Regions from separate parts of the Homo sapiens genome. Here regions 2, 3 and 4 are each linked to region 1. Evidence: fine-mapped expression QTL. A gene starts in region 1. Each other region holds a variant in brackets. All regions are shown on one strand. Distances are from middle to middle. Region 1 holds the start of SCAMP1 (secretory carrier membrane protein 1). Region 2 overlaps SCAMP1 (secretory carrier membrane protein 1). Region 3 has its middle 25 kb from the start of SCAMP1-AS1. Region 4 overlaps SCAMP1 (secretory carrier membrane protein 1).

The links. PIP is the estimated chance that this variant, and not a neighbour inherited with it, causes the effect. A credible set is the group of variants that fine-mapping cannot tell apart.
Region 2: its variant is the best candidate, but not a certain one, in a credible set for the expression of SCAMP1 in monocytes after Pam3CSK4 (Quach 2016, PIP 0.58).
Region 3: its variant is the best candidate, but not a certain one, in a credible set for the expression of SCAMP1 in esophagus muscle (GTEx, PIP 0.58).
Region 4: its variant is the best candidate, but not a certain one, in a credible set for the expression of SCAMP1 in whole blood (INTERVAL, PIP 0.88).

The regions. Positions count from the first base shown.
Region 1 is chr5:78,357,242-78,363,489 of GRCh38, reverse strand. SCAMP1 (secretory carrier membrane protein 1) reads right to left here and starts at 2,873. Exons shown (of 9, transcript NM_004866.6): 1 at 2,762-2,873. The coding sequence starts at 2,818. It overlaps SCAMP1-AS1 (SCAMP1 antisense RNA 1), which reads left to right and starts at 2,949. Exons shown (of 2, transcript NR_105014.1): 1 at 2,949-3,276; 2 at 3,505-4,726. RefSeq lists enhancers at 2,114-2,233, 2,628-3,224, 3,144-3,303, 3,334-3,423, 3,225-3,821 and silencers at 2,324-2,443, 2,874-2,963.
Region 2 is chr5:78,469,904-78,475,379 of GRCh38, reverse strand. All of the region lies in intron 8 of SCAMP1 (secretory carrier membrane protein 1), which reads right to left. Among named protein-coding and RNA genes, the nearest start is that of SCAMP1, 110 kb to the right of the region's middle. The variant G/C (reference allele first, on the strand shown) is at 2,201.
Region 3 is chr5:78,332,325-78,338,572 of GRCh38, reverse strand. No RefSeq gene overlaps it. Among named protein-coding and RNA genes, the nearest start is that of SCAMP1-AS1, 25 kb to the left of the region's middle. The variant C/T (reference allele first, on the strand shown) is at 3,543.
Region 4 is chr5:78,463,111-78,469,358 of GRCh38, reverse strand. All of the region lies in intron 8 of SCAMP1 (secretory carrier membrane protein 1), which reads right to left. Among named protein-coding and RNA genes, the nearest start is that of SCAMP1, 110 kb to the right of the region's middle. The variant C/T (reference allele first, on the strand shown) is at 3,388.

The DNA.
Region 1 (6,248 bases):
CGCCTGTAATCCCAGCACTTTGGGAGGCCAAGGCGGGTAGATCACGAGGTCAGGAGATCGAGACCATCCTGGCTAACACGGTGAAACCCCGTCTCTACTAAAAATACAAAAAATCAGCCGGTGGTGGCGGGCGCCTGTAGTCCCAGCTACTTGGGAGTCTGAGGCAGGAGAATGGTGTGAACCCAGGAGGCAGCGCTTGCAGTGAGCAGAGATCGCGCCACTGCACTCCAACCTGGGCGACAGAGGGAGACTCCGTCTCAAAAAAAAAAAGAAAGAAAGAAAGAAAGAAAAACGATCTGCTTGAACGCAGTGGCTCCCGCCCGTAATCCCAGCACTTTGGGAGACTGAGGCAGGTGGATCACGAGGTCAGGAGTTCAAGACCAGCCTGGCCAATACAATGAAACCCTGTCTCTACTAAAAATACAAAGAATTAGCCGGGTGTGGTGGCGGGCACCTGTAATACCAGCTACTAGGGAGGTTGAGGCAGGAGAATCACTTGAACACGGGAGGCAGAGGTTGTGGTGAGTTGAGATCACGCCATTGCACTCCAGCCGGGGCAACAGTGCAAGACTCCGTCTCAAAAAAAAAAAAAAAGTAAAAAAAGAAAAATGATCATAAAGTAACTCAAATGATTCTAGAAACATTTCAGATTTAAGTAGAGTATCAGAAATGTTATTTCAAAAATCACTTTTACATAAATATAAGCAGAAGTAAAAAGACAAAATATAGATATAAAACTATACTTTGTGAGGAGGAGGGGCAGGTGAACATAAATGGAAAAATAAAGGGTCAGATACACTGACAGTGCTATAACAGTCACCAAAAACAGAGAAAGATCATAAGCAGAAATATGTGTACAACCAAGTCTACTTTAGACCTAAATGATCTGTCCCTGATGCATTTTACAAACTTGAATAATCATTGTCCTGGATACATCCACTTATAAAAGAACAAAAAAGATTTATAACGTTATGCCACAATGAATATTTAAAACAACTCCTGGGTTTAGAATTACTACAGCAACTTTATGAATGTCAGAAGAGGAAAAGTGTCATGGCAATATCAGATGTCACAAAAGGACAGTCTGGGCTAAGATGAAGACAATGTTTTGCCCTAACAAGAGAGCCAGTTAATATGAAATGAACCATGAAATGGAATGACCAAGTAGAAAATACACTGCCAAATCGTCAGATGCTGAATAAACAGCGTCAGTGAATTATCTGAATTAGGAAAGGCTAAAAGGTTCTTGATGTTTTATCTTCAAAATATTTTAAAATAACACCCATTTAACAATTTATGAACGGTCTCTTTAGAAAGTCTACCATTTAAGAACTACCTGATTTTCCACAACATGGAAGCAAGTCCAATACTAATTGAAACAAAACTGCCAGGAAAAAAAAAAAAGTCTTAAAATGCAACCATGTCACTGAAAGGTACAGGCCAGTTGTACTGAATTTTAAGTGACATTAGGGACAATGAAACAGTGACTGAGTCTAATTCTACACTGCTACAAAGTGAGTCGAGTTGTCAATAATAATCAGGGTCATTTCATTAAAATAATCCTCCTTGGAATTATCAGGCATTTAATAATCAGAGCAGAAATAGTTTTCCTCTTCCAGGATTCTTAATGAAAGATAAAACCAGGAGTAAAAAGATGTAAACTCAACAAGCCAGAAGTGACACTTGTGTGACCACAAATTAGAGTTCCTGTTTTATTCTGTGTGACTGCAAATTAAAGTTACTACTGCACATGGCCGGGGGGATTGAGAAACAACTTCAACCAACAGTTGGAAACAAATTACACGTGCTAACAGTTACACTCATTAGGAAATTCAGAATACTTTCAAAGAGAGAGTTATTTAGATGTTGCATTCATTTAAACGCAGACGATGAATATCTCAGCCGCCTTCCTTTGCAGGATTCTGTGCCAAGCCCTTCCGAAGCCGGGGTTGATAAGGTCGACTCCAAGAAGAAAAGCAGCTCAAGTAGGAAATGGTATCCTCACATAGCCCAGAGAACCGGTGACGCACTAGGAGCTTGGAAAATATCCCATCGTTTACCTTGCTAGAAGCAGCTGGGTAGGGAAGAGGTCGTCCACGTGCACTATTGTTTTCCAGATATGTTTATTTTTAAGTTTTGCTTTGGTATCAATAACCTCAACCTCAACCTAACAGAAAGAGGGGGGATGGCAGCGCCACTGGTGGTATTTGGGTGCAACACAAGTTTAAAAAATAAAAACATAACCTTTTTTTTTTTAATTGCAGCATACTCGGTGCCCTCACCTCTCTCCTCCTCCACACCTCTGCCATCACCCCACGCAGCTCTCCGCCGCCGCCACCTCGGGTCCCCATGACAACCCCACCCCAGGGCGGGCCCCCCTCCGCCGACTCCCGGCCCTGCCAGCCACACTTGCTTGGCAAGGGGCGACTCTACCTGCCCTCGGCTTTCTCTCCTGAGAGGCGGGCCAGGACCCCTCCGGGCGCGCGGGCCCAGTCCCGGCTGCAGACACGACCCTCACCAGTCGGGGACGTGTGGAAGGGCGACCGGGCACGAGCTGAGGAGGTTCCACCCCCAAGCCCCAAAACCCAAAGGAGTGACACGGGGCCGGGGCGCGACCCCAAATGGAGGACGGCGGCCCCGCGCCCCTCTCTGGGCTGCTAAGGGGAGCCGAGGGGCAGACGCAGTGGGCGCGAAGGAACTCGTCCGTTTTCACAAACAACGACGCGTCGCGGCGGCAGGAGATGCTGGGGCCGAAGCTCACCTTGAAGGGATTGTTGAGATCCGGGTCGGCAAACGGGTTACTGTCGAAATCCGACATCTCTCTGGCTCTCGGCGTCACCCACCCGACCCAGGCGCAGAGAGAGAGACGAGGCGAGGCCGCCGCCCCCCTGCGCGCTCACGTCGCCGCCGCCGAGCAGATCCGGGTGCAGCTCGCGGGCCACCCAGCCGGCCGCGCCACTGAGCATGCCCGGTGCGGCGGGCTCCTGGCCGCGGCGCAGCTCGCGTTCGCCATCCCGTTCCTCCGGGCCCGGATCCCACGCTCCGGGCTTTAGCTGCGACCGAGTAGGCAGTCGGGGCGAAGGAAACGGGAACTGAAAGCGATGAAAAGCGTTCCACACGCCACGAGCCCGCGGGATCCTCGGAGAGTATGGAACCCTTCCCCTCCGCTCTCAGCCGGAGGCCAGCTGCGTCCAGCCGGGCTCGGTCTTCTGAACACCGATTTCAAATCAGGTCCTCGGGGCCCAGCGTCACTTAGGGAAGTGGTGGCATTTTGTGGTAAGGACGCACACTTGTCAGGTTGGGGGAGGCAGCCTGAGTCGTGGGCCGCGCACCCCGGGAGCAGTGCCGTTAGACCGTGGGACGCGGGCACTGGAGAGGCTACTGCACCGCCCTCCGCAAATTACCTCCCCGGGGCGGGGGCGCGGCCGCTGCTAAGGATTTTTGCATACCCCTGACCCCACCTGAGAATCCCGGCCTCCCATCTTCCGGTCTCTCTGACTCTAGGTTGCTGCTAAATCACGGAGAGCAGCCTTGGCGCTGCCGGTCCCAACTTGATCCAAGGAGCCTTGAGAAGGAGATGAGATTCAGTACCAGGGGCCGGCCGTGGCTCCCATCCTCCGGAATCTGCAAAATGGCTACTTCTTCAGAAATAATGGGGAGAGGGATGGCAAGAGGCCAGAGATCAAGGCCCTCGAGTATTAACTTGAGCATTTGGGCACAAAATAGACACTTTTGGATTTTCCCGTCTTTTCCAACACCAAGGATGAGATTATCAAAAGATGTGTTAAATTAATTTGTACCGGCCGGGCGCGGTGGCTTACGCCTGTAATCCCAACACTTTGGGAGGCCGAGGCGGGCGAATCACAAGGTCATGAGTTCGAAACCAGCCTGGCCAATATGGTGAAACCCCCGTCTCTACTAAAAATACAGAAATTAGCCGGGAGTGGTGGCGTACGCCTGTAGTCCCAGCTACTCTGGAGGCTAAGGCAGGAGAATCGCTTGAATCCGGGAGGTGGAGGTCGCAGTGAGCCGAGACCGGGCCACTGCACTCCAGCCTGGGAGACAGAGCGAGACTCTGTCTCAAGAAAAAAAAAAAATCAATTTGTACCATTCCTTGCCCCACCCTGCCGAACTTATTGAAAGAGCATCGCTTTCCTCACTTTTCTCCTCTAACAGAAAAGCACTTAGATGAAGCTACAGGGAGCCAGAATTCTTTTGACTTGGTGGGTACCGGAGGATTGGAAGAATCTAGATTGAGTATTCCTTGGCCTTTGGGGAGCTTGCTCTATGCAAAGTCACCCAGGAAATGATACTCCCCCCACTGTGAAACACTAGCTAGAGATGATAGACAAAAAGCACATTTGTTGTAATCTCCCTTTGACGGGATTCAGGTTGGGATAGATGTCGAAGCAGCTGCTTCTAGGTAGTCAACGAAGATGTCAACTAGTAAATGACAACAGACAAGGATGAGCACAGCAGAGCTGTACGATTCTAGATATCAAAAAGAGCAAGCAGTCTGTTGTACTCACCATCGCATCCTCAGCAGCTGCCCAGTGCCCGGTTTTAACTTAGTGCTCAGTGTATGTGTCAGGTTTGAATCCCAATTCTGATACTACCTGTGCTACTCTCTTCACCTCTCTGAGTCTGTAAAGGATTATTTAAGAATTAAATGAAACAACATACAGAAAAGTGTCCTGCATGTATATTTAGTGCCTAACAAATATTGGTTGAACGTCGAAAGTGGCAAGGAGGCTCAGTATGTTCTTATACGCTTTGCCTCCCTTCTCCTGAGCAAGCATGTCCTTGCCCAGCTCATCTGCTTCTCTCACCACTTTTGCCCTCACTCCCTCCACCTGTCCTCCAAATGACTCAAAATAATCTGCACTATTTATTATGCATCTACTATGTTCCAAGACAATGAGGGTCAGCTGAGCCCGCATTGCAGGATGGAAATTTCCAACTATGTTCTGTTTACAGCTAATGATATTTGCACCTAATGCAAAGGTTTACAGACTTTACTGTTATAGAATCATTTGGAATACCTGTTGAAGATGCAGACACCCACCTTACCATACCTCCTATTGCTAAGATTACGCTTGAAAGGATCTGAGGTAGGGGCTCTGGATCTGCATTTTTTATTTTTTACATCTCTATACATTATTTTACATAAATGTATAAATGGAGTCATGACATACATATTGAATTTTTCACTTACAAAAATTTTTATTCCGTGTATTCCCTCTTCTCTTCCCCTACATTAACAACCTAGTACATTTCTTTAAATATTCTTGTAATAGTGTATATCTGCACTTACATAAAATAACATGTAATTGTATAAAAACAATACATATTCATGCAGATATGCATACACTCTAATACTGAGCTTTGGCATTGTCTTGAAAAAGTTAGATCATATGTATATTTTTCTGCAGCTGTTTTTCTCAATACGTATGGCAGAATTTCTCAGCAAGATGTGCATTGTCAGAGAGACAGTCTTAAGGTTTCTTCCCCTAGTATGCCACATAAATATTATCACTTTTTATGTGTAGCATGCCTATAGAGTGAAAAGGGAAGCATGGCCTAATGGAAACCATATATCTGATTCATTATTCTTAACAACTGCAAAAATCAGCATATGTAAAGGATCTCAGGTGATTTTTTTTTTTTTTTTTTTTGAGACCGAGTCTTACTCTGTCACCCAGGCTGGAGTGCAGTGGCACAATCGTGGCTCACTACAACCTCCACCTCCCTTGTTTAAGCAATTCTCCTGCCTCAGCCTCCCGAGTAGCTGGGATTACAGGCATGCACCACCACACCCGGCTAATTTTTGTATTTTTAGTAGAGATAGGGTTTCACTTTGTTTGCCAGGCTGGTCTCGAACTCCTGACCTCAAATGATCCAGGCCACCTCTGCCTCCCAAAGTGCTGGGATTACAGGCATGAGCCACCATGCTTGGCCAACCTGAGATGACTTTGGTGGTGGCTGATCACACTTTTGGGAACACTGATATGAGGACATGCAGACATATGGTCCATGGGTGAGGGTCTTAATCTGTTTGTGTTGCTATAAAGGAATACGGGAGGCTGGATAATGTATGAAGAAAAGAGGATTATTTGACTCATGGTTCTGCAGGCTGTCAGCTTCAGATGAGGGCCTTATGCTGCTTCCACTCATGCAGAAGGCAAAGGGGAGACTTCGTGCAGAGATCACATGGCTACAGTGCAAGATGGGGCATCAGGGGAGAGAAA
Region 2 (5,476 bases), 110 kb before region 1:
AGAATATTAGCCACCAAACTGACACACAATAATTGTATTTAAACATTTTCTTAATATAGGTTTTCCTTTTCTTCTCCAAGCAGAAGAGATAATTATGCTAATTTAAACCAAAAATAAAGAACTTCTTAGCCAACTTCAAAAAGTTGTATTTTCCTCTGCACCCAATTAGTCAAGTGAAATTATTACAGCATTACAATGAAATGGTTTAAACATAATAACAAGAAACAATACATTAATTTATTACCCCAGACTATTCAGAGAGAACAGTACCTTATCTATTTCCATTTTATCTACATATACACCACAGGCCCTGTTATAATCAAATGAGATCATTTTATCATTTAATGTACCAAGCACTACTTATGTCCTTCAACATATTGCCGCTATGCACTCTGTATACAATTTAACTTTTTGTGTATGGTCAAGTCCTAAAGAATGCACAAAGAAACACTTCTGGGAATTGTTTCTCCATACTGATTAATCACTCAAATCTTGGAATTTATTTTCAGGAGTAGGGTTCAAAAATTTTCTATCAGTATATGTCTTAAAACCTGCATAATTAAACTATGAGTCCATCAATACATAACATCAGCCACTTATTTTAACACAAATTTGAAGAAGGAAATAACAAACATTTATTAATTATATGCCCACAAACTTCGCAGAGTGGGGACAGAAAGATACTGGTAATTACACTGCACTGTGACTGGATCTAAATTAGAAGCTTGACTGGAATGCAATCAAAGCAGGCTTAGGGAAGGGCCAATGCATCCAAGTCAGTATTTTTTCCAAACCTGGATAGGAACTGGTAACTGTGAGGTAAGAAAAAGAATGAGTCAAAGATTCTCAAAGCAAGCTTGCATTTGGGAAAGTAGTTTCAAGAAGACAGAGAAAAGAGAGGATAGGCTGGTTTGGGGAGAAGGCAGATGATAAGTTCTAAACATTTGTTCATTCATTCCAACTCTACTGACAACCTACTCTAGGCCTGCCACAGCAGGCAGGTAAAGGTTTGGTTCAAAGCTTGGGAGAGGAATGGGCTAAAGACATGGACTTGGAAACCAACGGCATATGTTATGGACTGAATGTTTGTGTTCCCCCCAAAATTCTTATGTTAAAATCCCAACCACCAATATGATGGTATTAGCAGGCAGGCCTTTTCGGGGGTGATTTTGCCATGAAGGTGAAGCTTGCATTAATGGAATAAATGCCCTTATAAAAGAGACCCCCAAGGCCCAGTGTGGTGGCACACACCTATGGTCCCAGCCTTCCACTCCAACCTGGGCAATATACGTCTCCAAAAAGAACTTTTTTTTTTTTTTAAAGAGACTCCAGAGATCTCTCTGACAACCTTCCATCACAAAAGGACACAGAAACTGTCTATGAACCAGGAAGTTGGCCCCCCTGAGATACTGAATTTGTCAGTGTCTTTCTTATCTTGGACTTCTCAGCCTCTAGAACTATGAGAAATCATTATCTGTTGTTTAAGCTACCCAATCTATGGTATTTTTGTTATAGCAGCCCAAAGGGACTAAAACAACATATAAATGATAGCTGAAACCTTGGCATTTATGAAACTGTCTATGGAGAACCCAGAGTAGAAAGAGAATAAAATCAAGTATATAACCTAATTAATGCAGAAACAGAAAACCAAATATCACATGTTCTCACTTTTAAGTGGGAGCTAAACATTGGGTATACATGGACATAAAGATGGCAACGATAGATATTGGGGACTTAAAAGATAGGGGAAGGTGGGAGGGGGAGAAGAGTTGAAAAACTACCAATTGGGTACTATGCTCACTACCTGGATGACAGGCTCAACTGTCCCCCAAACCTCAGTATCACATAATATACCCTTGTAACAAACCTGCACATGTATCCCCTGAATCTAAAATAAAACTTGAAATTGTTTTAAAAAGACACTATTTAAGAGGCATCCACAAGAAGAAAGAATGACTGGGAGAGGAAAGGGAAGAACCAGATACAGATACTTCTCACTGATGCCAAGAGAAGAAAGCATGTTAACACATGAAAAGCTGTCAGAAAAACTATCAAGAAAGCAAGTTAATGCATGAAAATCTATCACGGTACAAGACAAAAATAACCCACACAGCCCTGAGTGCTTCTGATACAGTGGTAAAAGCAAACGCCATATTACTACAGATCAAAGTGTCAAATGGTCAGGAAGAAAAAGAGCACT[G/C]ACAAATACATATACTGGTAAATCCAAAGATTCCTTTCCCCTAGTACCTTAGCACTATCATTAAGTATAAAAGTAATTATTTTTATTCCCTTTTAAAACCAAGTTTTCTATGGAAAATTAAAGATATAGATAAATCACTACTCCTATGTTCCAGACACTTATCTCAAAGTGAGTACAAATGACTGGATCCTAGAAAATGAAGTGTATTATAGAAATCTTATCAACCTTCTTTACTTACTAGACCAAACCAGAGCAATGCAATTGGATTCACTTGTCTGTCTCTTCCCCTCTTCCCCCAAGTTTGTGAGCATGTAATAAATAAATGTTAATTCTTATTTGCTTTATTATTTCCTTTTTCAAACTTGCACTAAATTGAGCAGCTGATACTATGTGTTCATGGGCTTCACAGTTTACTAAAATGTAATTCACAGTCCCACAGAACACAGAAGCAAAATAAAGGTAGGAATAGCCACATTTCTCAATAGTTTGTATCTATATAGACCCAGAGAGCCACCTAGAGGGAAAAGACCACATATATATACAGTGCATAATGCTAAATACTGTATTAAATCCATTATATCCATGTGAAAAAGGGTGGATTCTTGATTTCAGGGCCCCATGAAAGATGACAGGCTAATCATCAGGATGAACATCTTTAAAAGCTTATTACTTCCCTCCAGGGTTTCAGATGGTATCTATTAATAATTCATACTGCTGATATCAGGGACAAGGTTTTGACACCAAGTACTATAATTTTTTTTAAAAAATTACACAACTTGGGGGTGGGGGGCAAGGGGAGGCATAGCGTTAGGAGAAATACCTAATGTAGATAATGGGTTGATGGGTGCAGCAAACCACCATGGCACATGTATACCCATAACAAACCTGCATGTTCTGCACATGTATCCCAGAACATAAAGTATCAAAAAGAAAAAATATTTCAATTTTGATAAAATCTAATTTATCTTTAAAAAAATGCACCAGTTGATGGTTGCTTAAATGGAGCACAATTATCACCAAGTTGCACAGCCTTTTTATCTGTACTGTCACTTTAGAAAATCTCACTGTGTATGTGACCTGAATGCATATTACCTAGTGGAAAATTCCATAAATGCAGAATAGCCTAGAGAATTCAAAAAAAAAATTAAACAACTTAAATACTATCTTTTCTACTTATGAGAACTGCATTACTCCTAAAATAATATTTAGTTCTAGGAAAATCACAGAAAAGGCATTAAATTTGGTATATACTAATTCCACTACTTTCTAGCTGGCTGGCCACCACTCAAAACTTCAAGTCTGCTTCCCATAAAAAAAGAATATTTGTTACACTATCTGCTCCTCTGAGTTTTCCTAAAGATCAAATCAGAATGTATATAAATGAGTTACACTAACATAAGTTAAATTAATTTTTAAGTATCTGCCGAAGTGTCACAGCCAAAATGTAGATGCGGCTCCATAAAGGAGTCCTGCCTCCTTAATGCAGCTTCAGAGACAATACATGCTGTGGTGGTATATGACACAGAAAAACTGTATCGTGTGGGAAGTAAAGAATAATGGCACTTTATTTAAATAACCCAAACATATGTCTTCATTAAAACATATAGAATACCATTTCAAGAAACTGTGCTTTTATTAAGATCCCTGTCATGCCAAAATTATTTCAACTTTTATAAAAGCTGGGAAAATAAAAACAAATGAGTTTTTTAAATATATTTTTTAAATTCTTGTTTTGAGTTTTTAAAAAAGTATGGACGTCTAAGCCTAATATTTTCAGTTTGAAATTTCTGGAAACCCTCTATGAACCCTCCTGCCCACAGATGGGTCAGATATCCCTTTTGTAACCCCTTGAATTGCCAGTCTAGTTTCACCATGTCGAAATCTCACGCACCCTTTAAGCACTATCTCAAATAATGCTCTGTCTGCCATTTTGTGCCTGAACTAGCTATGGCTTTCCCTATTGAGAGTACCGCCAATCCTTTGTACATTTTGGGGAGCATGTATGTACTTTTTCTTTTACAGGGTTTCTGTCCATTTTGTATTATATCCTACATGCTTTTACTTGCCTAAGGGCAAGAACTAATTCTACTCATTGTTACACCCCCTAAAAGACACAGCTTAGTAATCTGCAGTAGAAGCCACTGAATAATTATTATTACTACCTGCTGAGGATTAAATGTTCCAAAATTGTCCTCATTAATAATAATTTTTAGAAGGTACCAAATAAGTGCAATATGGCTTAAGGAGACTATACCTGTGTTACAAAGTAAAATGCTTAGTTTGCAGTCACCTCAGAGGTTAAATGTTTTTAAAGTATACAACTACTTCACACCTGCTAGGATGGCTGGAATGAGAAAAACGGAAAATCACAAGTGTTGGCAAGGATGTAGAGAAAGTGCTGGTGGGAATGTAAAATGATACAGTCCTTCCAGAAAAGAGTTTGGAGGTGCCTCAAAAACCTAAACATAGAATTACTATAAGACTACATAGGAATTCCACATTGGGTATATATGTACACAAGAGAGGTAAAAGCAAAGACTCAAACAGATAACTGTACACCAATGTTCACGGCAGCACTATTCACAATAGCCAAAAGGTGGGAAAATCTCAAATGCCCATCAACAGATAAACAATGTAGTATACAGATACAATGGAATATTATTCAGTCTTAAAAATGAATGCATTTCTGATACATGCTGCAACACGGATGAACCTTGAAAACATTATGGTAATGAAAGAAGCCAAGTACAAAAGGAAAATATTGTATAACTCCATTTATATGAAATATCTAAAATAGGCAATTCATAGCAAATTAGAGGCTGCCAGAGGCTGAGAATAGGGAGGAATAAAATTATTGCTTAATGATTAGAGTTTCTGTTTGGGGTGATGCAAAGTTCTGGAAATAGACATTAGTAATGGTTGTACAACACTGTGAATGTAATTGATGCCACTGAATTGTATACCTAAATGTAATTAAAATGTCAAAGTTTATGTTATACATATTTTGCCACAATTAAAACAAATACAATACACCAAAAGCCATTAAATTGTATACTTTAGGTTTTTTTAAATTATTTTGTATTTTTTAGAGACAAGGTCTCACTCAGTAGCCCAGGCTGGAGTGTAGTGGTATGCAATCATAGCTCACTGCAGCCTCAAACTCCTGGGTTCAAGTGATCCTCCCACCTCAGTCTCTCCAACAGCTAGGACAATAAACTCACACCACCATGCCTGGGCTGTGTTGTTGTTTTTTTTTTTTTTTTTTTGTTTTTTTTT
Region 3 (6,248 bases), 25 kb after region 1:
TCATGCTCAATGGGCTCAACACAGATTTGAATTGGTAGAGGAATGAAGAATTAATCAGTGAATTGAAGAAATGAATCGATTGAGATTACCCAGTCTAAGGAATGAAAAAGAGAGAGAGAGAAGGAAGTAAAATGAATAGATCCTGAGATACCTATGGACACCATCAAACATACCAACTTACACTTAATGAGAGTCTTTAAAAGATAGAAAAAAAGAAATACAAAAAATAACAAAAACCTAACCAAATTTGTTGAAAAACGTTAATCTACACACCCAAGAAGTGCAATAAAATCCAAGTAGAATAAGCTCAAAGAGATCTAAACCTAGACACATCATAGGCAAATTGTCAAAAGACAAAGAGAGAAACTAGAAAGCAGCAAGGGAAAAAGTGACTCATCAAGTACAAGGAATACTCAATATAATGTACAGTTTACTTCTCATCAGAAACTATGGATGCCAGAAGGCAGTGGGATGACAGATTCAAGATGCTGAAAGACAGACTGTCAAACAAGAATTCCAGTGGCTCACGCCTGTAATCCCAGCACTTAGGGAGGCCAAGGGTGGGTGGATCACTAGAGGTCAGGAGTTCAAGGCCAGCCTGGCCAACATGGTGAAACCCCATCTCTAATTAGCTGGGCATGGTTGCGGGTACCTGTAATCCCAGCTACCCGAGAGGCTGAGGCACAAGAATCACTTGAACCTGGGAGGTAGAGGTTGCAGTGAGCCAAGATCGCACCATTGCACTCCAGCACCACTGCACTCCAACCTGCATGATAGTGCAAGACTCCATTTCAAAAAAAAAAAAAAAAAAAGACTGTTGACTAAGAATTCTATGTCCAGCAAAACTATTCTTTAAAAATGAGGGCCAGGCGTGGTGGCTCATGCCTGTAATCCCAGCACTTTGGGAGGCTGAGGTGGGTGAATCATGAGGTCAAGAGATTGAAACCATCCTGGCCAACATGGTGAAACTCTGTCTCTACTAAAAATACAAAAATTACCTAGGCGTGATGGTGCATGCCTGTAGTCCCAGCTAGTCAGAGACTGAGGCAGGAGAATCGCTTGAACCTGGGAGGTGGAGCTTGCAGTGAGCCAAGATCGTGCCACTGCACTCCAGCCTGGTGACAGAGTGAGACTCCATCTCAAAAAAAGAGGAATATTTCTATATACAAAAAGGGAAAACAGAATGAAAAGGATGAAATTAACCTGCTCAATGGCTATATGGCTGTTTTTCTCCAAGTTACTCCATCACTGGTATTAACTTATGTAAGACACACTTTCAGACTTTTTGTTTTCTTAAGACATTTAGCTCTCTGTGGTAGATACGAAGATTCCCTGCACAGATGCCTCTTCAAGGACTTGATGCCCGGCAATGGGCAGGCAGTCAGCAGATGTCTTTAGTGATGAGCTTTTTCCAGAGAACTGCTTTGCCCAAAACCTTCCTCTTCCTACGGCTGTGTGCATCTGATGACTATGTGAGGGTGTAATAAAGCCTTGGCCACTTGATACTATTCTCTCAACATTCTGTGCCAGATCAGATGAGGCTTTTCGAATCTGCATAGCAGCTCTACTTCTCCTTTCACCCAGTCCCACATCCTTCCCTTCCCTTTCTCTTCTTTCTTTTTCTTTCTTTCTTCCTTTCTTTCTTCTTTCTTTCTCTTTCTTTCTTTCCTTTCTTTCTTTCTCTTTTTCTTTCTTTCTTTCTCTCTCTCTGTCTTCTTTCCTTCTTTCTTTCTTTCTCTTCTTTTTTTTTTTTTTGACACCGTCTTGCTCTGTCACCCAAGATGAAGTGCAGTGGCACAATCTCAGTTCACTGCAACCTCTGCCTCCCAGGTTCAAGTGATCCTCCTACCTCAGGCTGTCAAATAGCTGGGACTACAGGTGCCCACTACCACACATGGCTAATTTTTGTTGTTGTTTTTTTTTGTAGAGACAGGGTTTCATCATGTTGCCCAGGCTGGTCTCGAACTCCTGGACTCAGGCAATCAGCCCACCTTGGCTTCCCAAAGTGCTAGGATTACAGGTGTGAGCCACCACACCTGGTCCCTTCCCTTACTTTTCGTAAGTGTTGATTCCTAATAAAACATCTAGCTTCCAAAGCTCTGCCTTGCTCTTTGCTTCTAGAGAACTAAACCTGTAACACAATCGTTGTCTTTTACCTTCAGGCACAAGGGAAAGACAGAAGGCCAATAATCTTGTTCTGTTCAACAAAGATAATTTATAAGTATTTATGTCTTCTAGAAAACAGGGATGTCAATTTAAGTTTTTATTACCAGGGGAACACATTATTATTATAAACACCAGTTTACAACCTGTTAAGGACTAGGAATTGCTTTCACAGGCCATAGCAACAATCTCTGATCTCCAGATGTCTAACAGGGAGTGTAGCCAACCAGAGTCAGCAACCGACTGCCCAGCCCAGCCTCTTGTTTTATAAATACAGCTTTATTGGAACACAGCTATCCACATTGGTACACATATCGTCTATGTCTGCTTTCACACTACAACACCAGAGCTGAGTAGTCTCAGTAGAGACCATACAGCCTGCAAGCCAAAAATATTTACTATCTGATCTTTTAAGAAAAAAGTTGCATTATGTCTTTCTAGAATGAGGGCACTACGGAGTTAAAGGGAAAAAAAATCTACTAATTCAAAAATAATTTATTCATTAATTTCTTCGACTAATAGTTACTATAGGTAAATCACAGCTTGACATTTGGCACAAGACTTTTGAAATGTTTAAAAATAATACACATAATTGTTTTTAACAGTTTTTCTGTACCTACTAGTAGTGACTGAGCTTTTAGTCTGGGCAAAGCAGGTTGCCATATACCATTCTCAAGAGTGTGTGTGCCTTCCATGAAACAGGGTTAGAAAATATGTGAAGTTGTTGATTTGATGTGTGACCACGCTGCTTCAGTCCTATGTCACATCTCTCTGGCATTGTTATCTTTGGATCTTTGGGAAAGTGCTAATCCACCATGTATAATGATCATACTTTTTCTTTTCCTTTCTTTTCCCTTTTTTTTTTTTTTTTTGAGACAGAGTATCACTCTGTCACCCAGGCTGGAGTGCAGTGATGCAATCCCAGCTCACCACAACCTCCGCCTCCCCAGATCAAGCAATTCTCCTGCCTCGGCCTCCCAAGTAGCTGGAGCCACTGGCGCCCACCACCACACCTGGGTAATTTTTGTATTTTTAGTAGAGACGGGATTTTACCATGTTGGCCAGGCTGATCTTGAACGCCTGACCTCAAGTGATCCACCCACCTCAGCCTCCCACAGTGCTGGGATTACAGGCATAAGTCACCACACCCAGCCAATGATCATACTTTTTCATGTTATACCTTCTTTTCCCAAAACCTATTTATATACCAGTAAATCAAACTGTGCTACGACAGTGCTTTTACATTTGATTCTGATTCCACATAATAATTTCCCATTTGAAACAACAATTATTTTATCAAGAAGAAACAGCTGCAAACACAGCAATTCCTCTGAACTACCATTAACTGAATGTTCCCTGCTGTCAAGCCAGATGCTTAG[C/T]AGTGAGTACTGAGCTTTCTCTTTAAACGTGCAGGAAGCAGGGAGATGAGTTGGCTGGCTGCACGGCCCTGTGGTGGGAGTCCTGGGCCCAGCCCCTCTGCTGTGCACTGCAGAACTAGAGACAGAATGCCCTTCTCATCACTCCCTGCCTTTGACCCTATTCTTCCTGGACCTCCTGCCCCAACTTCTTCAGTAAGTTCTCTGAAGCCAGTTGCATCATTTGAGTTCTATTGTCCATATCTAGTATTCCAGAAAATTGTACTGTTATAAAAATTTAACAGGGTCAAAATTATTAATGCCTGTGTGTTCACAGCTTCTTTCCCTCTCCCTTCAAGCTAAGTGAAATTATGGAGTTGCTCATCCTCTAGGTATTTTTCCATTTACCTTTCTCATGGGCCTTATTAGAGAGACAGGGGCGGGGGAAGAAAGTCTTGAGCAGCCAACACTGGGTTGTGGTGGCAGTTTTAGGTTAGTAGTTGACAGTGAGGAGAGGGACTTTTCAGGAGTAACTACATCCATATAAAAAATAATTGAGAATGCAGAGGTAGTAGGCAGAAGATTTTTCAATATGTTAGCTGTGCCTGCAGAAAATAATGAGATTTATGAAGATAAAAATAACAGGTAAATGTTTTGAGCTAGGGGAGGAAGGGGATGGAGAGATGAGTAGGAGTGCGAGGATGTTAATGCTTTTATCTTTCAAAGTAAGGAGTCACTGATGATACATACAATCAAAACGTGGCTTTATAAAAAGTGCAACAATGCAGTCTTTTCATATTTTGGAGTATTTAGAATTCTTCAGGAAATAATGTATCTTGTGGTGATAGAGGAATATTTATTTGAAATTCAGCCATTCCTTCAATTTCTCTTCTATTAAATTCAAGTAAGTTTAATTTTAAGATGTTTATATAAATGGCATGACCCCATGCTTATAAAGGTATTCTTTCTATCTGTATGTATGCTTAGAAGAATGTGTATATATACACAGTATAAAGCTAATGTATATTATTCTAAAGCTAATCATGGTCATTTCTGGGTGGTAGATTTGAGGTGATTTTCAAACTTTTATTTTTGTGCAGTTCTGTTGTTTGAATTCCTGTAAGTCATTCAATAAACTAATTTTTCTTTTAAAAATGTGAAAAATATGCCAATATAATAGTGGTTTGTTTGAGATGGTGTGAATATGGATGATAATGACGATGATATTGATGATTTTTGAGACAGGGTCTCACTATGTTGCCCAGACTGGAGTGCAGTGGCTAATCACAAGCTTTACCATGGCACACTACAGCCTGAAATTCCTTGGCTCAAGTGAGCCTCCTGCCTCTTCTTCCTGAATAGCTGGGACTACAGGCACATGGCAATTATTATTTTTCTTTGTGCTTTTCTGTATTTTCTAACTTTCTAACAATAAAAATTATAAAATAAAATAATACAAATATACAACATCGCTATTATGCTTTCCATGTTAATATTTTTTTATTCCATGGCAGCTTTATGAAGATATTAATAGTAAAGCATGTTTTTTCATAGGATGTTTCAACCAAAACTCTTTTTTACAGACATGCATAAAAAGTACCATGGACCAAGATAAATCATTATTTGTCTAAAGATTAGCATAGGCAGACTTAAATAGCAGCAATAATTCCTGTGTCTAAGAAAAAAACTCCAAGGAGGGCACACTTGGTCCAGTTAGGGCCAAGTTAGGGGATTTCAGAACGCCCATGAAAATTACCAGCAATCAAAGAAAGGATGAATAATAAGTGACTAACAGAATCAAATATCTAACGTGTAATACGTACAAGTAACCATTTTCAAGCCTCAGGACTCTATTCTATAAAATAGACATAATGATTTCTTTCTAGATTAAGTAACATTAGGAGGTTGAGAGCATGCTGCATGGTTAAATTCAGGTTCTCAAGATAGGTGTGTTATTATTCAAGAACAGTACTCTTATGAGCAGTAGACACTTCGAGATCTTTATCAAACATGGTTCAGGATCTACTGTCTTCCATGAATTAACATTCTGTATTGTCAATATATTATTTCCAAAACATAATGTAAATGTATGCAAAAGGAAATATAAATACATAAATAGAAAAAAACCCTCAGTTTTCTTTATATTCTCCTCTACTCTTTTCTTTCTTTACTCATTAAAAAATCTTTCTCAGGCCAGGCATGGCGGCTCACGCCTGTAATCCTAGCACTTTGGGAGGCCAAGGCGGGCAGATCACAAGGTCAGGAGCTCGAGACCAGCCTGGCCAACGTGGTGAAACCCCGTCTCTGCTAAGGATAAAAAAAAATTAGCCGGGCATGGTGGTGCACGCCTATAATCCCAGCTACTCAGGAGGCTGAGGCAAGAGAATCACTTGAACCCAGGAGGCAGAGGTTGCAGTGAGCTGAGATCATGCCATTGCACTCCAGCCTGGGTGACAGGGCAAGACTCCATCTCAAAAAATAAATAAATAAATAAATAAAAATCTTTCTCTTTTCTCATTTTTCCATTATTTTTTCCTTGCAGATTCATTTATTTCTAGCTTTTTTTTTTCTTTTTTTTTTAGATGGAGTCTTGCTCTGTCACCCAGGCTGGAGTGTAATGGCATGATCTCCACTCACCACAACCTCCACTTTCTGGGTTCGAGTGATTCTCCTGCCTCAGCTTCCCGAGTAGCTGGGATTACAGGCATGTGCCACCACATCTGCCTAATT
Region 4 (6,248 bases), 110 kb before region 1:
ACAAGTAACTGGATGACTATTTTAATAGACAATGTGAACCATCCAGAATTGATTCCTAGTCAGCAAAGACGACAGTGCTGAATGGTTCTGAGAGAGAAGTAGCATGCCTATTTGTGACTATAGAAAAATAGTACAGTGGAATTATCAGCTTTCTATCCTAGGTCATAAATAAAGTTACAAAGTGGAAGAGACAAGGGGGAGAGGTGAATGATAACAATATTTTCAAGAAAGTATAGATGATAATCCTTGAACTGGGCAGGTCCACTTATAATATGTGATTTTTTTCCAACCAAACTCACATAGAAAATACAGTATTCATGGGATGTAAAACCCAAGTACACAGAAGGCTTTTTGTATACATGGGTTCTGCAGGGCTGACTCCAAGACTTGAGTATGCATAGATTTGGTATATGGATGTGTGGGTTCTGAAACCAATCCCCTGCATATAGAGGGATAACTGTAAGAGTCACTTTTCACCTAAGAAAACTATCACTTTATATATAATAGGATATCTTCACAAAGCATTTACCATAAAACACCAACTAATGAGACTTAATCACAGTGTTCTCTATCATAGACCCAATTCAGCGCTCCCACAAAAATGAGTATCTGCAGAATATATACTGTAGTAAATAAACAAGATTTGAAACACTTCAGAAAACTTGTTTTTTAAAGAGGTAAAATAACTTTTTTCTAAAATTCTTTCAAAATGCAAAAAATTCACTATTAAAAACTACTTAATGTGAACATGACAGTCTATGAACAAATTTCATGGAAGTGATAATCATTCAAAATCAGGTCCCAAAAGGAATACAAATGATATATCATCTATTAATTACTTCCATATTAAGTTATTCTAGCCATACCAATTAACAGAAGGGAAAAGTTTTGGATTCCCTGATCCATAGTCTCCTGTGATGCATTCATTTACTGTTATTTGACACATTTATAACAACTCCCTGCTTGGCCCAAAACCATTACTCAATTCTTTCTGATAGTTCTAATAGAAAGAGGAGCTTTTGTAAAAACACCATTTGGAAATAATCTGAAAGAAAACAAGAAATCTATTTGTGAAAGATAAGGACTAAACTAGACCCTTCTCCATGCAGATGTATAGGAGACATATATTCTTTCAATATTTGAAATGTGGAGTATAAAACAACACTGTGGGGGAAACAAACAGCACAATCTCATACTGGGCCCTGCAGCACCAATGATGACCCACTTCAGTTATGCAAGACAACAGAAAGCCAACGAAATTACCAAAATCCTATTCACTTCAATTAGGATAAATATATAGGACAGAGCACATTTACCTTAAGAGAAGAACAGCTTAATAAAACCCAACAATTCTAGAGTCAAAACCGTGCACAGATTACGGTTAGAGGGCATTAACTGTTCTTGAAAAGCATGACCCCTAGTGGTTATAAATACTGCTACATACCTGCAAAGGATTTTTTGTCATTAAACTGCCAGTTTTGACCAAGTGTGAAACAGAAAATTAAAAAGGAAAAATTAGGTTTTTAAAATTGGATCTTAATTTCTATTACAGCAAGAGAAATGCCTGCTATTAAAATATGAAAGCTGGTGCAAATTATATTTTAGCTTATAGTATCCCTATCGTACTTCATAAAATCATACAGAAAATCATCTCATCTAAACTCCTTATTTCACAGATAAAGAATCTGAGACCCAGAGAAGTTTAGGAACTTGTGAACACATATAAACAGAAGTTCTGGTAACTTCTTTAACTATGAGGTAAAAACAACAACAACAACAAAATATTAGAGTATGCTGCATGATATCCATATCAATACTTTTATTCGAGAAAGTCATATTTCTTTTCAATGCCTGGCATATGAGCACCATTCTATAACTTTTCCTTTGTGTGGTGGATCCTGAAAAACTGTATACCTGGAAAATGGAAAGGAAAAAAACTGCTGGTCAAAGTATTCAGAGTGTGCACAGAGTAGTTCATTATAGAACAGCTACAGAATAAACACTTCCTCCACACCCTGGCTCTATTGATCATCTGTGCCACACATTCCTCAACCACTGCCAGTGATGGTTAAAGTTCCCTTTATACTTCACCCACAGCAGAGTCTTAATTGTTGTGAGTATTCTCCCCAAAGCCCTCTTCTGACTCCATACACTTTCTAGGCTTCATTTACTTCAACAAGTCAATACTTTCCAGTCTAGAAATCCAGCCTAAAGTTCTTCCCTTGCTCCTAACTCATATATACAAAAGCCTACTCAATATTTATATTTTAATGCCCCACCAGTTAATTTAAACTCCCCAAATTCAAGGTCAACGTGGAAAACATCTTGATCCCCAAACCATTTTTCTTGTACTCTCTTCTTGAATGGTCCATCATCTAAAAACCTGGGTGTCATCCTTGAGTCTTATCTTGTCCCCTACTTCCAGGCCCAGTTGGATTAATCCTTACCTGCTCGTTTTCTCTTGACTACATTTTCTTCACATTTCCTCAGTTCAGGCCACCATCATTACTAATCAGCTTCCTAGCCCGTCTCCTAAGTGTTTCCAAGTACGACTGCTCGGCCCCGCAAATCCCAAATGTATTTCAGAATAAATGCTTCTAAAATTCAAATCTAATCAATTCAATTACTCTCCTCCTTAAAACTCTTCTATGGCTCACTACCACTTTTTGGAGAAGATTTAAACTTCTTAACAAGACCCTGTAGGATAAAACTATACTTACGTGTTCAATTTCATCTTCCAATACCAACAACCTACAATTCTCCTAGCCCCAGCTCACACACCATGTTTTATCTCCCATCCATTCTGAGCTACATTTAATTCCCTGAATTTGCCATGTTATTTCCTACAACTAGATGTGAACGTGGTATCCCCACTCTCTGGTACCTCCTTATCCCTCTTATCCTCTTCCCTGTCCCTTATTCTTTTGCTTAGATAACTATAATGATGAGCAGCCATCATTATATCTCAGCTGAGGCAATACTTAAAAAGACCTCCAAAACCTGATAGGTGTCCCTCTGCTCCCTATACTTACCTCTATCATGGCCATTAAATAACTGAATTGGGGGGCCCACCAATTTATTTCTCTTCCTCACCAACAGGTGATCTCTCTGAGCTCATGCACAGCCCAGTGCCTGGCACGTAATATATGCTCAATAACAGCTGTTTAACAAATGAGTGAAAACTGCCACACACCACAAAACCCTCTACTATACTCAAAATGTATTACATTTCTACTTCTATAAAACACCCTCAATAATACATGTGAAATAATAAAGGAATTCTCCAAAGAATGGTGCTGTGATGGTCAGTGTTACATGTTAATTTGGCTAGGCCGCAGTCTCCAATTATTCAATCAAACACTAACCTAGGTGCCGCTGTGAAGGTAT[C/T]TTGTAGATGTAATCGGCATCTGCCTTCAGTTGACTTTAAGAAGAGTGTTCTAGATTATCTGGGTATGCCCCATCCAATCTGTTGAAAGGCCTTAAGAACACAACTGGAGTTCCTCTGAGGAAGAAGAAATCCCACTTGTGGACCAGAGTTTCAACTTCTGCCTGAGAGTTCCGGCCTGCCCTCTTGATATCAGACTGACCTCACCAGCCAATTCCCCGCAATTAACCTTTTCATTCTTTCTGTTTCTGATAGCATGCTGACTGATAAAGGCATCTACTAAACAAAAGTAGACACTAAACCAGACCCTGAATATAAAATGATAAAAAGGTCAAGATCAGAAAGGAAAACTATTAACTGAGAAGGCCCTATTCTATGCAGTTTACATTCACTGTTTCATTTAATCCTCACACCAACCCTATGAAAGTGGTTACTCTTCCCATTCCTTCTTTTATTCAACAAATATCTGAGTGCCTATCACATGCCAATCACTGCATGTCACTGTTCCAGATGTGAGAATTACAACCTGAAAGCATACAGAACAGGTCTCCACTCTCACGCAGCTTGGAGTACAGTTGAGGACACCAAACCTGAGTGGTTACAGAAGTCTGTCTCAGGTCACAGAGCTGTAAGTGAAGCTGTCAAAATTTCAACCTGAGTTGTATGGTTCCAAAGCAAAACTCTTGCTCTTCTCATCTAATTCCAATGCTAAAAGACTTGTTCACGCGGGGGGTGCTTAACAGCTGCGTACCCAGAATACATGCACCATAAGGCATAAAAACTGGCTTATGCCCAGGTGCCACAGTAAGCAATATAGACAGTTAAGTTTCCCCAAGAAAACAGAGAATGACATGGTCCCTAAGATACAAGGCAACAAAAAACATTCTGGGAGACACAGCAAGATCGGAGCTGGGTCTTGAAAGAATACTAGTAGGTCTTCAAATAGCAGAGAAGACGAATTAATGCACGGATTAAAAAACATCATATAAACAAAATCTGGAACAAAGGAATGTACATGATGTATTTGAAGAAACCGAGCAGTACAGTCTGACAAGAATAGAAAGTGTGAATCATGGAGCTGTGAGACGTCACCATTAGCCCTTCTTCCCACCACCACTATAATCCCAATCTGTGATTCTCCGAGAGGACAAAATGGCATAATACTGGTGAAGTGTTCTGCATAGGGCCCAGAGTATGGCTGAGCAAAATAAAAGTGATTTCATCATTAGGTTATTAAGGCCCATTTGATGGCTTTATGGCATGTAGTGTGTTTTTACAACCTTAGCAATGCTGGTGTTTCTGAATGTAGCCCTTCTTCGCACTGCCACCAAAATGCCGTTCCCAATCCCAGATCCACGTCAAAAATCTGCAGAGTGCCAATTTGTTGGGGTTTTTTTAAGGTTAATATAGGAATTATATATTAAATGGACTGCGAGAAGGATGAGGGAATATAAGTAACCTGTAAAAAGAATTTCTGGATTAGCTGAGGTTGGAAATGGAAAAGATACTAAAAAGGTATCTAAGAAAGTGAATTAAAAAGTAATGGAAGTGGCTGTGCGTGGTGGCTCATGCCTGTAATCCCAGTAGGCAGAACACGAGGTCAGGAGATCAAGAGCATCCTGGCCAACATGGTGAAACCCTGTCTCTACTAAAAATACAAAAATTAGCCAGGCATGGTGGCACATGCCTGTAATCCCAGCTACTCAGGAGGCTGAGGCAGGAGAACTGCTTGAACCAGGGAGTTGGAGGCTGCAGTGAGCAGAGATCACGCCATCACACTCCAGCCTGGTGACAGAGCAAGACTCTATCTCAAAAAAAGAAAAAAAAAAATAGCTGAGTGTGGTGGCGCATGCCTGTAGTCCCAGCTACTTGGGAGGCTGAGTCAGGAGAATCGCTTGAACCCGGGAGGCGGAGGCTGCAGTGAGCCAAGATCGCGCCACTGCACTCCAGCCTGGCGACAGACAGATTCTGTCTCAAAAAAGAAGTAATGGAAGCACTGACAGAAGCAATCACAGCACTGACAAAAATGTTCAATGGAATTACATAAAGTGCTTAGTGCCATCTCATTAGTAGGTATTCAATAAGTGTTTCTTCAAAAAAAAAAGCTTCATTAAGATAAAATCTGTATACTATGCATTTTACCCTTTAAAGTGTACAATTCAATGATTTTTAGTATATTCATAGAGTTGTGACTATAATATCTACACAACCTAATTTTAGAATACTTTCATTACCCTCACTCCCCACCCCACCCATAAGCCACAGGCAAGCTGTAATACATTTTCTGTCTCTATATATTTGCCCATTTTATACATTTCACAATAATGGAATCTATACAATATGTGGTCTTAATAAATGCTTCTTGAATATTACTCAGAACGTTCAAAAGGAACATCTATCACTAAGAAACTGAAGAGTTTATGAGGCATTACTGTGAGAAGATGACATCAATCAACAACTGGAGATGAAAATGACCAATTGAAGATGCAACTAAAGGTTTATGCAATGCATTATCTTTTCCAATTCCAAGATTCTAGGTCATCTAGGTAGAGAAGAAACTGAAATAATAAGGGAAGATGAAATTCCCAAAGAAAATGACTGCATAGCACAAAGAGCCGATTACATTTAAGACCTTAATTTATGAACTGGATGAAGAAATGGAGGAGAAAGAATAGCCAGAGAGTCAAGAGAATTAGAACATCATTGCAAAGTCTTAGCAGAGGAGCCATCTGTGGTGTAGAAAGCTACAGAGGTTAAGGAGGAGGAAAACTGGAAAAGGGATTTAGTAACATTAGAGAGCTGAGTGTCAATGGTATGTGTGTTTGGTGCAGAAGAGAAGTTAAAAATTTCAAATAGAGAAAAT